Linked DNA regions of Homo sapiens: region 1 is linked to region 2. Evidence: fine-mapped expression QTL. A gene starts in region 2. The other region holds a variant in brackets. All regions are shown on one strand. Distances are between the middles of the regions.

Region 1 (3,018 bases), 120 kb before region 2:
GAGCACCTACCGAGTGCCAGGCTCCATGCTGGGTTCTATTTTCTTTAGAACATCTATTTCATTATTACTTAACAATTATCTGCTTTACACATTATAAGCCAAACTCTGTTCTATACTCCATGTGGGTTTAACTGAATATATAGTCACCACAGCCTTGCAAAGTAGATATTTAATTACGCAGGTGAACAAACTGAGGCTTGTTAAAAAACTAGAACAAGGTCTCACTGTGATTCCAACCAGACTTGTCTTACCATTATTACAAATGATGCTTTCTCTCATGATAGACATCTATAATTTACCTAGTTGGAATTGCTGCACACATTTTGTTTGGTGTTTTGATTTTTTAATTATATTGTGTATATATTTCCATGTAGCACATAATAATTTACATAATTATGGTAACTTTGTTACACCCAATTACCTACTTCAATTCAGCTAATTTCCTCTTGGTAAACATTGATTGAGTGTTTATGTGCCAGATTCTATCAAATGCCAAGGAAATAAAAATAACTGAGATAAGGTTCCTAACCCCAAACTTTCATCTAGCCAGGAGACATACATTATGTGAAAAGATAAGCATAACGCAGTGTGATACATGCATTTCTCAATGGTTGCACATTTGAGTTATTGCTAACTTGGCTGTTATCAATAGCGTTAGTACTGCCAGGCACGGTGGTTCACGCCTGTAATCCCAGCACTTTGGGAGGACGAAGCGGGCTGATCACGAGATCAGGAGATCGAGACCATCCTGGCTAACATGGTGAAACCCCGTCTCTACTAAAAATACAAAAAAAATTAGCCAGGCGTGGTGGCGGGCGCCTGTAGTCCCAGCTGTTCGGGGGGCTGAGGCAGGAGAACGGTGTGAACCCGGGAGGCAGAGCTTGCAGTGAGCTGAGATCACACCATTGAACTCCAGCCTGGGTGACAGAGCGAGACTCCATCTCAAAAAAAAAAAAAAAATAGCTTTAGTACAAATATTTTCACCATACCCCTGAATTATAGTTTTCAAAAAACACTAAGAAGCCAAAGCATAGGGACAATGGCCCTGCTTCCATTATGACAGCCAGACTGCTTTCCAGGATGCCTGCACCAAGCTCGTTTCTCAGTATCCAGTGCGTGGAAAGAGGATGGTCACACCTGCCCTTTACGTCACGAAGAAGAGGTTATGAGGCTTCACATAATCTATAAATATACGTGGTTACTGCTGATGTGTAAAG[C/T]GTAAGTATCCTTTGACTACTTGTTTAGCAAAGTGTGGATTATATGTTCATGCCTATACATTCATATCAATCCGTGTGCATTTTGGATGTAAACCTGTATCATCTTTTTACATTTATTGTTTTCAGATTTCATTGTCTCTTACAAAACAAAGTTCCTTTTCATTGTGTATAAAAGTTTTTAATAATGTTATTTTGTTAAGCTTAACTATGATGTCTCTGATTATATTATTTTATCTCCAATAAGCAAAAATGAACATCTCCACCGTTGAGATGAACGAATTTTTTCATTCAAAAAGCCCTGCTTTTCGCGATTGGCCTTGCTTGTGATTAGTGCATAGTGTGTGCAGAGTGTAAATGTGAGAGCGGGCCCTGATTCTTCAGCACTTCCTCTCCCACATTTCATTATTCCAGGCTTATGATATCTTATACTTTTAGAACTTTGGATTTCTTTCTGGAGTTGATTCCCATGCCCTGAGTGTAACATTTCCGTATAGATAATTATTATTGTATAATACATTGTTTTTTTTTTTTTTTTTGAGACGGAGTCTTGCTCTGTCACCCAGGCTGGAGTGCAGTGGCATGATCTCAGTTCACTGCAACCTCTGCCTCCTGGGTTCAAGTGATTCTTCTGCCTCAGCCTCCTAAGAAGCTGGGACTACAGGCGTACGCCACCATTCCCATCTAATTTTTGTGTTTTTACTAGAGATGGGGTTTCACCATATCAGCCAGGCTGGTCTCAAACTCCTGACCTCATGATCCACCTGCCTCGGCCTCCTAAAGTGCTGGGATTACAGGCGTGAGCCACCGCTCACGGCCTATTGTGTAATACATTCTAAACCTGTCGCCAGTTCCCTTTCATTACCTCATTTGACAGAGTAAGTGGTCAAACCTCTGAGGAGAGCTGAGGAAGGCCAAGGCCTGAGGTCCTCGAGGACCTGGGAGAGCTTCAGGTCTGCAGAACCAACCCAGGAACTGCCGGGCCGCTCCAGGGGCCCACTTCTACTGCCACGAGCATCTTAGGTTCTCTTGCTGACAGCCCCTGATGCCTGCCTGCCTGCCTGCGTGTGTTGCTGCCACCTCTGCATTTCTCCAGCCCTCTGTCTGTCTGGTGGCCTGGTCTAGTGGCCCCAGCTGTCTAGGTCCCCACTGCTGTGGCTGTGATCCTGCGTTGTGCAGGAGGCGCAGCTGCCATCCCCGCAGCCACAGCAAGCCTGCCAACTCAGGCTCAAGCAGAAGGGGAGCAGCGCCCCCATTCTTCCTGCTGGATGACACCCCAGCTCTTGTCTCTTCCTGGAATGGAGGTGGGAGGGCTTGGGGAAGATTCCACCATGATAGGACCCCATCTCCAAACTAAGGGGCAGCTCTTTCAGTTACCGTCCTCTACAAGAATTTGCTTTAAGTTCCAAGAAACAAAGGTGGAATGTATTTTAACACCATCACACATCGAAAGTGTTCTTTCCACTGCTGATGGCTCCATTCTTCAAGTCAAGGGCATATCTTTAGGGTGTTCTTGGGGGTATCGGGGTCCTGCTACCAGAGACCTCTTCACAGGTGTCCTCAGAAGTCCTGGGTACCCTCATCCCTCCTTATCTCAGAGACCTCTGAGGGGATGCAGATGAGGCCCCTGGTAAGCCTGCCCAGGGCCTGGCTAGATTTCCACCCCAGGGAAACCTGCTCTTGAGGACTCTGCAACATCCCAGTGACCACCAGCAGCCCATCTCTGTTTCACAGTGGTGACAATCTCCAGGCCCACACTAGCAAGCCTGGGTCTTCTCCCTCTCCCGTTGCCCTGACCTGAGAC
Region 2 (2,500 bases):
TATATAAAAACATCTTAAATTGTACTTCCTCCCAAGCTTAAAGTCCTTAGAATGAGAAAACCGAAAGGCGAACCCAAGGCCAGCACATTTTATTTCCGCTGTCCCAGAAGCGCGCTGGGCGCACCCGAAGCTCCGCTCCAACAGCGCCGCGCCGCGCTCTCAGCAGCGCCTCCCGCTGGCGTCTCCCCACCCCACACCCAGGTCGCCGCCTCTGGCACACCTGGACGGCCGCAGGTGACCGGCGACCCACTCCGAGGATCTGGTAGAAACCGGCCAGGAAACCACTCCCGCCCGGAGGAGCGAGCCACTGTCAACTGGCCCGGAGGGACGTGCCCACTGCCAACCATGGGAGAGGAACGAGCCTCTGTCACCCCTGCCGGGTCACCCTGCCCTGAGGGGCGCCCACTGTCACCCCTGCCGGGAGAGGCGTCCCCATGGTCACCCTGTCCTGAGGAGCGCCGTCGCTTTCGTCCCTCCAGGTCCCCACTGCCACTCTGGCCGGGAAGGGCGTCCACTGTTATGCCTACCAGGAGAGGCGTCCCCAGTGTCACCTTGGCCAGGAGGGACGCCCACCGTCACCCACTCCCTGAAGGGGACTCAATGTCACCCCTGCCTTGAGGGGCGCCCACTGTCACCCTGCCGGGAGAGGACACCCACTGTCACCCCCGCCCTGAGGAGCGCCCACTGTCACCCTGCCGGGAGAGGACACCCACTGTCACCCCCGCCCTGAGGGGCGCCCACTGTCACCCCCGCCCTGAAAGGCGCCCACTGTCACCGGCTCTCTACGCCGTCCGCTTCGGGGTGTGGCGGTCCGGGAGGGATCCGGGTGGGGCCCCCCTGACAAGCGCACCCTCTCGCCTGGGCCCCGGCCCACCCGCTGCCCGGGGCCACCGCGTCCTCGCGGCCGCCCTCGTCGCGGACTGCACGGGTCGCAGCCTCCCGGGAGCCCCTCCGGGTTGCGGGGTTCGGCCTGCGGCGCTCGTCACCTCATGAGGTAGTCCCGGAAATCCTTGCTTCGGACATAGTCCGCCGCTTTCCGCACCAACGCGCCCGCCATGGCTGTGCCGACACCAGACCCCGAGTGGTCCCTGCCTCTGCTGCCGCTTCCCAGAGCCAATGACACCCCGGCCAACCCCCCGGCAGCCGACGGCGAGCCAGCCCGAAGGCCCGCCTCACGACACCCGGCCACGCCTTACGGCCGCGCCGCGCCGCCCGGCTCTCGGCCAATGACAGGGCGCAGGGCCAGAGATGGTGGCGCGGACTGGCTGGCTCGTGCCGCACGCCTCCTTCCCGCCCTCGGTGGCGCACGGGGGCGGGGCCCGCTGCCGTAAAACGGCTGGGGCTGGGCCGGGGCTGGCAGGCGGTTGCTAGGCTCCAGCGGCTCCCGGCCAGCGGGGACGTGGAGGTGACATTTCTCTGACCCACAGGACTGTGGGCGCCCTGCCGAGCGTCGCGCGGTCTTGGGGCGACCTGCAGTGGGGCCCCTGCGGCGCAGCGCGCGGTGGGACTGGCCGGGTTCCCGCGCCGCCCAGGGCCTGTGTCTGCGCCGGTTCCTGGCAAGGGCACCTTGGCCGGGCGGCCCGCGTCCCCTGCGCTTCCCACACCCACGTGGGCGGACCCGGCCCGCAAGCTGGGCCAGCCTGCGGTTTCCGGGCACTGGGGAGTGCGCAGAGCCCCGGGCCAGCGACCGCAGCCGGGGCCCCTGGCTTCTCCCGAGCACTTTCCCCCGGACCGGTCCCTCCAGGGTGGCGGGCGGCACCCAGGGCCGGCGCTCCTCACCAACGCGCTGCAGCTACGGGCTCAGGAGGGAGCCGCAGCGTCGGAGGAGGAAAGCATTTAAGAATAGCACAAAGCCTTAGGCTCGAGGAAGCGTGACTGCTTACGTGTTGAAAATAAAGGTTCTGTAAGTCCCACCGCGGGTGCATATTGAAAAGAAAGGGATCATTAGCACGCGACCCTCGCCTAGGAGTATATAAACCGCAGCACGACTTTCGGATCACAAAGGCAGAGAAAAGAACACATTGAAGGCTTTTGCTCACTTTTCCAAGTTGTTTCGTTTCGTTTTGTTTCTAATGTGGACGATCATTTAAAATGCCTCTGGTGGCCGGGCGCGGTGACTGACGCCTGTAATCACAGCACTTTGGGAGGCCGAGGCGGGCGGATCACCTGAGGTCAGGAATTCGAGACCAGCCTGGGCAATACGGTTAAACCCCCTCTCTACTAAAAATAAAAAAATTAGCTGGGCGTGGTGGCATGTGCTTGTAGTCCCAGCTACTTGGGAGGCTGAGACAGAAGAATCGCTTGAACCCGGGAGGCGGAAGTTGCAATGAGCCAAGATTGCGCCATTGCATTCCAGCCTGGGCAACAGAGCAAGACCCTGTCTCCAAAAAAAACAAATAAATATAACAAAATTCCTCTGGTAGCCGGGTGCGGTGGCTCACGCCTGTAATCTCAGCACTTTGGGAGGCTGAGGCAGGTGGATCACTTGAAGTCAAGAGTT

Evidence for each region.
Region 1: its variant is fine-mapped to the expression of MPC1 in whole blood (INTERVAL, PIP 0.97).

Annotation. Positions count from the first base shown.
Region 1 is chr6:166,260,886-166,263,903 of GRCh38, forward strand. No RefSeq gene overlaps it. Among named protein-coding and RNA genes, the nearest start is that of PRR18, 46 kb to the right of the region's middle. The variant C/T (reference allele first, on the strand shown) is at 1,218.
Region 2 is chr6:166,381,820-166,384,319 of GRCh38, forward strand. It overlaps MPC1 (mitochondrial pyruvate carrier 1), which reads right to left and starts at 1,121. Exons shown (of 5, transcript NM_016098.4): 1 at 987-1,121. The coding sequence starts at 1,057. MPC1-DT (MPC1 divergent transcript) reads left to right here and starts at 1,359. Exons shown (of 1, transcript NR_189630.1): 1 at 1,359-2,500. RefSeq lists an enhancer at 264-443 and silencers at 804-903, 1,054-1,793.